Regions from separate parts of the Homo sapiens genome. Here region 2 is linked to region 1. The links come from fine-mapping of genetic effects on gene expression. Tissue or cell type: whole blood. Region 1 holds a variant in brackets; the other region holds the start of a gene. All regions are shown on one strand. Distances are between the middles of the regions.

Evidence for each region. PIP is the estimated chance that this variant, and not a neighbour inherited with it, causes the effect.
Region 2: it holds the start of ZNF460-AS1, and the variant in region 1 is fine-mapped to the expression of ZNF460-AS1 in whole blood (TOPMed, PIP above 0.99).

The regions. Positions count from the first base shown.
Region 1 is chr19:57,235,686-57,240,817 of GRCh38, forward strand. It overlaps ZNF805 (zinc finger protein 805), which reads left to right and starts at 4,947. Exons shown (of 4, transcript NM_001023563.4): 1 at 4,947-5,132. RefSeq lists enhancers at 4,545-4,764, 4,785-5,054. The variant A/G (reference allele first, on the strand shown) is at 2,466.
Region 2 is chr19:57,278,038-57,283,195 of GRCh38, forward strand. It overlaps ZNF460-AS1 (ZNF460 antisense RNA 1), which reads right to left and starts at 2,297. Exons shown (of 3, transcript NR_136529.1): 1 at 2,242-2,297. It overlaps ZNF460 (zinc finger protein 460), which reads left to right and starts at 2,448. Exons shown (of 3, transcript NM_006635.4): 1 at 2,448-2,799. The coding sequence starts at 2,770. RefSeq lists enhancers at 1,644-2,583, 1,698-2,289, 1,707-2,906, 2,290-2,881, 3,810-3,929 and a silencer at 3,304-3,353.

The DNA of each region.
Region 1 (5,132 bases):
CTTCTGAAAACTCTTGCCTACTTTCAGGTCAGGCACGGTGGCTCACGCCTGTAATTCCAGCACTTTGGAAGGCCAAGGCAGGCGCAACACTTGAGTTCAGGAGTTCAAGGCCAGCCTGGCCAACATGGTAAAACCCTGTCTCTTCTAAAAATACAAAAATTAGCTGGGCGTTGTGGCGGGCACCTATAATCCCACCTACTTGTGAGGCTGAGACATGAGAATTGCTTGAACCTGGGAGGCAGAGGCTACAGTGAGCTGAGATCGTGCCATTGGAGTCCAGCATGGGAGACAGAGTGAGACACCGTCTCAAAAGAAAAGAAAGAAAACTCTTGTCTACTTTCTGCAGATAAATTCCCTGAGGGTACATAAACCTGCCACCTATCACAGTGGCTCCTTGATCCAACTTACTATTCTCCATGTTTTCAGGAGTATGCCATTTGTAAAACAGGACTGTCATCAACCCAAAGGTCCACTCTCTTTTTATGGACATCAATATGCTGCTGTCTCAGAAATAAAATGTTTCACTGCACGTCAGTGCAACCCACTTCTTAAGTGAATACACTAGCACCTCTGTGTTGTGTTGCACTCTGATGACATTAGAATAAGTCATTCCTCATAATAAATGTAATATCACCTCTTCTGAAATTACTGCATGCTGCAATTTGGGGAGTGGCCTTCCAGCCTTCTGTAACCTTCTGTGACAGCTTCATGTGGCAGCTGCTCCCTGCACCCATTATAAACTGACTACCACAGTAAGCATCTAGACTCCTCAGCTGTAAGCTCAAATGTTTTTTGATCAATGCAGTCAGTTACACCAGTATTTCTCCTAACTTTAGTTGTTAAGCACTTTATATGGAGTTTGCCTTGTTAATGTTACTCCTATCATTATATTCTACAAAGTCTCCTCATTGTGAAATATCCAGCAGTTGCAGGCATGATTTCTGCTATGACCAGACCCACTACGTAAGCATAAATAACTCAGCCACTTCACTTGGATGAAAAGCTCCCACTATTGCAGATCTATAAGTTAAATACTCCAAGACATTGGTTCATGGTTTTTAACCTGCACTTTCAGTATTTACCTCTTTTTTGTTTTTTCTTTCTTTTACCTGCATGGGGAGACACAGTGCTTACCTCTATATGCTTTGCTTCATCCTATCAGTTTTCCTGAATTAACATTTTAAACACTTGGCAATTCCTAATAAATTAACTGGTTCACACATATAAACTCTTACACATTTTAGGTGCTGGATAAACACATCACTGGGCACATTTTTGGCAGGTAAGGATAGAAAAATCACTAGGGCCTCAGCACTGATCACCAGATGATATATGTTTAAATAATGAAAACTCTGTCATGCTTTACATGAGGGATTTGAAAGTGTCCCCAGGCCGGGCGTAGTGGCTCACACCTGTAATCCCAGCAATTTGGGAGGCTGAGGCAGGCAGATAAACATGTGAGGTCAGGAGTTCGAGACCAGCCTGACCAACATGGTAAAAACCTGTCTTGACTGAAAAATACAAAAATTAGCTGGCCATGGTGGCTGTAATCCCAGCTACTTGCGAGGCTGAGGCACGAGAATCACTTGAACCTGGGAGGTGGAGGTTGCAGGGAGCCGACATTGCGCCACTGTACTCCAGCCTGGGCAACAAAGTGAGACTCTGTCTCAAAAAAAAAAAATTGTCACCAATATCTACATAGCTTTCTTCAGCAGCACTGATTCCAGACATTCCATGATGGAATATAAATATACTAACTTTAATATCTGTTCTGCATCCAAAGCGAAAACTAATTTAACCCTACGGGTCATACACATATGGAAAGGAGAATTATTCCTCTCTTCTAAATTGGGCAAATTAGTATTGTCAATGATGAGTAACAGTGTCAACAGCTTGCACGCTAATTAAGCAACATTTCTCAATAATCTCATTTTACAAATAATACCTTCTAGAAAATTGATTCCATCTACATTTCCACCCAGTTAACATCCTGTCATGATACTTTCTCCACTTTCAAATCTCTGGAGGGCATTTTCTGCACACCTTGTTTCCATTTTCATAACCATATGTATTGTCAAATCATTGAAAGCTGGATTTTATTCTCTAACCTTCATAGTCATGAGAAGAAAAAAAACAGTCACCAACGGAGACTACAAAGGTTTTGTATAATATGATTTTTTTTTTTTGAGACGGAATCTTGCTCTCTGGCCCGATCTCGGCCCACTGCCGTCTCCGCCTCCCAGATTCAAGCGAGTCTCCTGCCTCAGCCTCCCAAGTAGCTGGGATTACAGGAACCCGCCACCATGCCCAGCTAATTTTTGTATTTTTAGTAGAGACGGGGTTTCACCATGTTGGCCAGGCTGGTCTCAAACACCTGGCCTCAGCTGATCCACCCGCCTTTACCTCCCAAAGTGTTGGGATTACAGCCGTGAGCCACTGCACTCGGCCTGTATAATTCTTAAAAG[A/G]TTGTTATGACCCTAACATGACTTTGTTGCTTTCTTGTTTGCAACCAGTTAGTTCAGGGTTGTCAAAAGGCCAAAATTACAACAAATTTAGTTTTAGATCTAATTGACTTTTGTTTGTGATTCATGAATTGAGGCAATCTCTGTTCTACACAATAGAAATTAGAGTTCCCACTGGGCAATGGCAGAACAGTGGGTTTTGTAAGGTGGGAACAATAAAATAGAACAATAGAAAAAAAAGCTGATTGGTTAACAGATTACTTTTTCTAAGGGTTAAAGCAGAGGGGACTTCCTAATTTCACTAATTCAGGTAGACTGAAATCTGCTTTTAGGAAAAACTGGGATCTGTCTGCTTCCTTAAAACTTCAGTTTGATTAGATGACATTTAGTATGAGAGACGCCATTTTGATTTGGTCAGTGAGGCCTGCTGTAGGAGCTCCAAAACAATGGCCTCCTGTAATTTTTGTTTAACAATGTTCACCTCTTTCCATTCCTTTCTCCATCTATGCTCATTTTTTTTCATGGTCTTGTCCAGTATCATAACTTGAAATAACAGTGTTTGCCAAAAACTTCCAGATTTTTATGTCCAGGCACAACTTCTCTCCCAATATTCAGTCAGAGATTGAACTGCTGTGACACAGACACTCTGTGGTCATACAGACATTTCAAACTGATCATGCTTAAAGTTGGAGTCATGAGCTCACCCAGTCCAAGACTCCCCACGTTAAGGAATGTCAAATCTACTCTACCAGGGCTCTCAGCCAATACCTAAAGCAAAAGTTGCTGGACCATGTGAAGACCAAGCTTGGCCAAAGAAGGCCCAAGAGAGACAATGCATTTGCAACATGTCCCAGCTGGACAGGGTCTTGCTCTATTGCCCAGACTGGAGTGCAGTGGTGCAATTACAGGTCATTGCAGCCTCGACCTCCTGGGCTCAAGAGATCCTCCCATCTCAGCCTCCTGAGTAACTGGAATTACAGGGGTGTGCCACAATGCTCAGCTAATTAAAAATTTTTTTTGAGTAGGCTGGATGCTGTGGCTCATGCCTGTAATCCCAGCACTTTGGGAGGCCAAGGTGAGTGGATCACTTGAGCACAGGAGTTCAAGACCAGCCTGGGCAGCATGGTGAAACTGACTACAAAAACTACAAAACAAAACAAAAAAACCCTCAATTTGCTGGGCGTGGTGGTGCGTGCCTGCAGTCCCAGCTACTTGGGTGGCTGAGGTGGGAGGATCACTTGAACCCTGGAGTTTGAGGCTGCAGTGAGCTGTGATCGCGCCACTGCACTATGGCCTGAGCAACAGAGCGAGACCCTGTCTCAAAAAATATATATATAAATATATATATAAATATATATGTGCATATATATACGTATATATACATATGTATATATACGTATATATGTATATATGTATATATAAATATATGTATATATAAGTAGAGAGAGAGAGAGAGAGAGAGACGGAGTCTCACTCTGTCGCCCAGGCTGGAGTGCAGTGGCGCGATCTCGGCTCACTGCAAGTTCCGCCTCCCGGGTTCACATCATTCTCCTGCCTCAGCCTCCCGAGTAGCTGGGACTACAGGCGCCAGCCACCACGCCCGGCTAATTTTTTGCATTTTTAGTAAAGACGGGGTTTCATCGTGTTAGCCAGGATGGTCTCGATCTCCTGATCTCGTGATCTACCCGCCTCGGCCTCCCAAAGTGCTGGGATTACAGGCGTGAGCCACCGCGCTCTATTTTTTTTCTTTTCTTTTTCTTTTTTTTTTTTTTTTGGTACCAATGAGGTCTCGCTCTGTCGCCCAGACTGTTCTCAAACTCCTGTCCTCAAGCGATCCTCCTGCCACAGACTTCTGGGACCACAGGTGTGCGCCAGCACACTCAGCTTATTTTAAAAAAATTTTTTTTTTTTTTGGTAGTCTCCCTATGTTGCTCAAGCTGGTCTTGAGCTCCTGGGCTCAAGCGATCCGCCCCCCTTGGCCTCCCAATGCGCTGGGATCCCAGGCCTGAGGCATCGCGCCGCCCGACGTCCCCCTTTGGTTACTCTGACTGCCCGCTGATCTGTATAAGAGGATCCGGAGGGGAAATAATGCAAGGTGGAAGTCAGAGTCCGGAGCCTGGTCCAGGGTCTCTGCACTGGCCCTGACCCTGGCAAATGTCCCTGACTCCTGGGGCTCGATTTCCTCCGGCCAAGAATGGACGGTCTCGCGCTTGGTCCCTGGCCTCCGAGTTGTGCCCCCAGGACAGAGGCAGGTCTGAGCCGGGCTGTAGGCCCGCTGCGACTTTTACACCGAGGCCTGCCGGCTCAGGATCTGTCCCCTTTGCAGGTGGTTTGTAGAGAAAAACTACATTAACTACAAGGCATTGCCAGGTGCGACGGCGGGCCCTGGGGCCAATGATGGTCCAGGACAGGGGCGTTTCCTGTGGGTTGCGAAGCTTGGGGCGGGACTTCCGGCATTTGGATGGGACGTAATTTGGGAGCGACGGTTCCGTCCACGCCGGCTCTAGGGAGGGGGCGGTGTTCCGTGGCCGCCTCCCTGGCGGCGCTGGGGAAATGAGCAGGTAGGAGGCCGACAGCGACCTCCGCGTCTCGGAGCGAACCGTGAGCCTCCCCGTAACGAGAGAGTTTGACTGTCAGCCAAGGTCACCGGGCCCGGCGCAGGGAAGGGGT
Region 2 (5,158 bases), 42 kb after region 1:
CCTTAGGAGAGACTCTAACTCCCCTAACTTGAGCGTCTATCCCAATCCCATTCTTTACCTGGGTACCCCACCACTTACCCAAAGTCATCCAATCAGTGCTGCAGTCTATTTCCTTTGAGTCAGGGGGGTCTCCTCAGCATTGTCCCTTTTGTGGTTTGCGAGAAAAGTGTTACCCGACCCCACCACTTACCCAAAGTTAGCCTTTGGGTCACGGGTTCCTGCAGTATAGTCTCTTCTGTAGTGGCCAGGAATGTGTTACAGGAAAGGGGTCCCAATCCATATCCCAAGAGAGGGTTCTTGGATCTCGCACAAGAAATAATTCAGGGCGAGTCCACAGTGCAAGTGAAAGCAAGTTTATTAAGAAAGTAAAGGAATAAAGAATGGCTACTCCATAGACAGAGCAGCCCCAAGGGTTGCTGGGTGCCCATGTTTATGGTTATTTCTTAGTGACTTGCTAAACAAGGGGTGGATTGTTCATGCCTCCCCTTTTCAGACCACATAGGGTAACTCCCTGACATTGCCATGGCATTTGTAAACTGTCGTGGCACTGATGGGAGTGTAGCAGTGAGGAAGACCAGAGGTCACTCTTGTCACCATTTTGGTTTTGGTGGTTTTGGCCAGCTCCTTTACTGCAACCTGTTTTATCAGCAAGGTCTTTATGATCCGTATTTTGTGCTGACCTCCTATCTCATCCTGTGACTCAGAATGCCTTAACTGTCTGGGAATGCAGCCTAGTAGGTTTTAGCTTCATTTTACCCAGCTCCTATTTAAGATAGAGTTGCTCTGGTTCATATGCCTCTGAAAAAACCATTTAAATTTAATTATAAGAGTCTGGCCAGAGGGGGTGGCTCACGTCTGTAATCCTAGCACTTTGGGAGGCCGAGGTGGGTGGATCACCTGAGGTCGGGAGTTTGAGACCAGCCTGAACAACATGGAAGAACCCTGTCTCTACTAAAAATATAAAATTAGCCAGGCGTGGTGGCGCACACCTGTAATCCCAGCTACTCAGGAGGCTGAGGCAGGAGAATCGCTTGAACCCGGGAGGCGGAGGTTGCAGTGAGTGGAGACTGTGCCACTGCTCTCCAGCCTGGGCAACAAGAGTGAAACTCCATCTCAAAAAAAAAAAAAAAAAAAAAAAATTTAAGAGTCACAAATATGTGAAAAAGAGAATGATGTCTTTATCAATTTTCAAAAATTACTATTGCCAGTGATGAATAACAGTGTTCCTTGCACACTAATTTAGCCAAAAATATTTCTCCAAAAGTACCGCATCGTGTAGGAAATTGACTCCATCTCCATTCCTTGACTATTTTCAATCTCAAAATTAAATCTCTTGGAGAGTACTTTCTGCACACCTTTCTATTTCCTTAACCATATATATCGTCAAACCATTGAAAGCTGGACTTTATTCTCTCACTTTCATAGTCATGAAAAGAAAAAAAAAAAGTTACTGATGGGGACTCCTAAGACTTCGCATAATATAATCTTTGCATAGTCTAGGATTGTTAAAATTCCTAACAAGACTTTATAAACTCTCCTGTCTGCAACCAGTTAATGCTGGGTTGGGCCAGGGTTCCCCTCTTTCCCGTCACTTATCCATCTACGCTCATTCTTTTCATAGCCTCACCCAATATCATGACTTGAAGTAACAGTTTACAGTAATAACTCCCAAATTTATATATCCACGCTCGAACCCTCTGCCAATGTTGAATCATAGGTTGAGTATATGGCACTACGCTTTGTGGTCTTACTGACGTTTCAAACTGATCATGCTTGAAATGGGAGTACTGGGCTTCCCGGCAAGCCTGCTCCACTAGCAGCCTCCCCACCTCAGGGTACGGGAAGTCCACACGTGGCGAACGCGAAGCCTATTACATCACCCGGAAGTCCCTGCATCCTACGAAGGCTGGGCCCGGCCAAAGGAGGCCCAATAGAGGGCGGTCTGTCCTTTCCCAGCAGGCTGGGCACACTGTCAGGCGTCCTCCTTTGGGTGGCTATTTTAACTGCTCATTTATCCTTTTCTTCTATGAAAAGATCCAGAAAAGAGGCAAAGCAAGCGAGAAGTCGCGGGCCCAGCCCACAGCAGGGTAAGCACCTTTGTTCGGGGTCTGAATCGGGGCGAATATCCCCGCCTCCTGACCTCGATTTTCCTGAGCTAGAAGGGACCTTTCGACCCTCCGACTTGTGCCTATACTAAGGCGGTGGCCCTAAGACGACGCGGGGGTTCTGGTGCGCACTTACGTGCAGTCGGATGCGCTGGGTGAGTTCCCACACCCGGTAGATGTAAGGGAAAAACTGCATTACCCAGAAGGCACTGCCCCTTGCGTCGGCCGCGGACTCTGGGCCATTGACGACCCAGGACAGGAGAGTTTTCTGCGGGCCAGGGCGGCGGAGGCGGGACTTCCGCTTCTTCGTGTGACGTCATCTCCGTGGGCCGGTTTGGCCCTGAAACAGTGTGGGGCCTAGAGCGCTGGGTGGGCGCGTTCTGCGGCCTGAGCAGGGACGGGTAGTGAAGCGGTTACGCCCCTTCTTCGCGTCTTGGCGGGAGCCTGACGCCCCGCTTCTCCCCTAACGAGGTGTCCCACCGGCGCCCGCCGAGGCCTAGGCCTCCGCAGCCGCCCTCCGTCTCCTCAGCCCCGACGCTGCGCCTTGGGCCTTGTGCGCATTTTTTTCGGGGGAAAACTGAGGCTCGGAGTGCGAAAGTCAGCCGAGGTCGCCCCGCCCAGGACAGAGAAGGGCTGTGGTCGGCTGATCCGCGGCATTCCCGGGATGGCGGCGGCGTGGATGGCTCCGGCGCAGGTGAGTGGACGAGGTTTCGGCCTTGCTGCTGCTGTGCTATTTCTAGAGGCCTCGTGGGCAGGCTGGAAGCCAAGACAGCCACAGGATTTTTCTTTGTCGCCATCGTTTATTTAAGAGAAATGGCCGTGGCTTGTCATTTCCTTTATCCGCAGTCCTGCAACAGTGTTGGCCTCTGATAGGTGTTCAGTCCGTGGTTGAAGGAGTGATGCTTCCTTCTAGGGATCTCATCACACTTCCCCTAAATCCAACCTTCTCTGTTGCCTGCCAGCCCGTACCCCATCCACCTGGCCAACCACCCCTGACCTTGTCTGTTTGCATTTTTCCCTGGTCCTTTGCTCTTCAGAGCCACCAACCTGACCGTGCAGTCCTCTTCCATTTTCCAGGCTTTCTCCTTGCACTTCCTTTTACTTCGAACACTGCCCCTGTAACTTTGCAGGGCCTCCCTTTCACATCCTTTTGGCATCTGTCCAGGTGTCACCTATTTGGAGGTGCCTTTTTTGGCAATTCCGGCTAAAGTGGCACCTTACACCCTTGCCCAGAGTCTGGTATTTTTGTGTAGATAATCTGATGGTATTAAAGAAGCTTGTGGATTTGAGTTTGTCAAGGATGTAATGGGAACAAAGAAAAATAATTGCAAAGAATGATATTAACTGTCATTGAGTCCTTGCTGTGGGCTGATCGGTGAGTATTATTTAACCCTCAGTTCGTTTAACCCTGAAATTTTTTTTTTTTTTTTTTTTTTTTTTTGAGACGGAGTCTTGTTCTGTCGCCCAGGCTGGAGTGCAGTGGCGTGACCTCGGCTCACTGCAACCTCCGCCTTTTGGGTTCAAGCGATTCTCCTGCCTCAGCCTCCTGAGTAGCTGGGACTACAGGTGTGCGCCACCACGCCTGGCTAATTTTTGTATTTTTAGTAGAGACGGGGTTTTACCGTGTTGGCCACGCTGGTCTTGAACTCCTGACCTCAGGTGATCCACCCATCTGGGTCTCCCAAAGTGCTGGGATTACTCTTTAGAATTAGGTTCTGTTGTCATCATTGTTTTACACAAGAGCAATTTGAGGGTCACATACGTCCAATTACCTGCCTTACATCACTGTAGCTCTTAAGTTTCTTAAGTCAGAAACTAACAACTGGTGTGTCTAACATCATAGCCTGTGTTTTTACCCTCTTCTTTACCCGCAGTGGTTAGGGAGGCCTGGGGGTGAGACCTAAAGTAACCTTTGCAAGATGAGGCCTCCTTCTAGCCAGTGATCTTGGGCATGAGGAGTCATGGCCTTTCATACTGGTGGAACTGTGTAGACTTAAAAAATGGTATATTGGTTGTTTAAGGAGTTCTCAGGGGACCTGTGTGGCTTCCACGGTGGTTTTATATGTGGTTCCCCTTACTCCCTTACCTGCTGACATATTCTGAGAGGGCACGTTTGTATGGTTATGTTGCTGAATGTACCCTCCTACTCAGCCAGGATAGATGTAATCTCCAGATGGGCCCATATTGTCTTGGCTACAACCTGCTGTGCCCTCTATGACTCTTGTTGCTTGCTCATGGAATCTTCTGGCCTCAGGGATGCCTGCTAGTAGGACTTAGGTAGAAAAGGAAGCGATGGCTCATTGTGAATTCTCCCTGGAAGCAGGTCCAGGCCCTAACACCTGATCAGGTGTCACCACGTCAGGTGATTCTTTGGTGAGGTGGATGATGATGACTACACTTCTCTGCCCTTGTCCATGGGAGTGGCTGAAATGTATATGTGGATTTGAAATGCTTCATTCTCATTAACTGCATTAACTTTGCTAATAGAGAAATGTCAGGTTACATAATCAGACCAGAGGGCCCTGGGCTTAAATCCTGCCTCTGTTGATAAGACCTGTGACTTTGGGCTGGGCTTGGTGGCTCACACCTGTAAACCCTGCACTTTGGGAGGCTGAGGTAGGTGGACTGCTTGAGCCCAGGAGTTCAAGACCAGCCTGGGCAACATGGGAAAACCCTGTCTCTACAAAAAGTACAAAAAATTAGACCGGCATGGCATCATGTGCCTGTAGTCCCAGCTGTGCAGGAGGCTGAGGTGGGAGGATCACTAGATCACAGGAGGTCAGGGTTGCAGTGAGCCGACATTGTGCCACTGCATTCCAGCCTGGGTGACAGAGTGAGACCATCTAAAAAAAAAAAAAAGAGAGAGACATGAACACATGAGACTTTGGGTAGACTGGTAGAGCGGAGGGTAGGACTGAGGCCCAGGTCTCAGGTCCCTGAGTGTGACATAGAGATGATGATGGTAAATTCAGATGCTGTGGCCTTTGCCTCAGTGTTTGTTTGTTTTTTTTTTTTTTTACAAACAGTTTTTCTTTCTTTCTTTGTTTTGATGG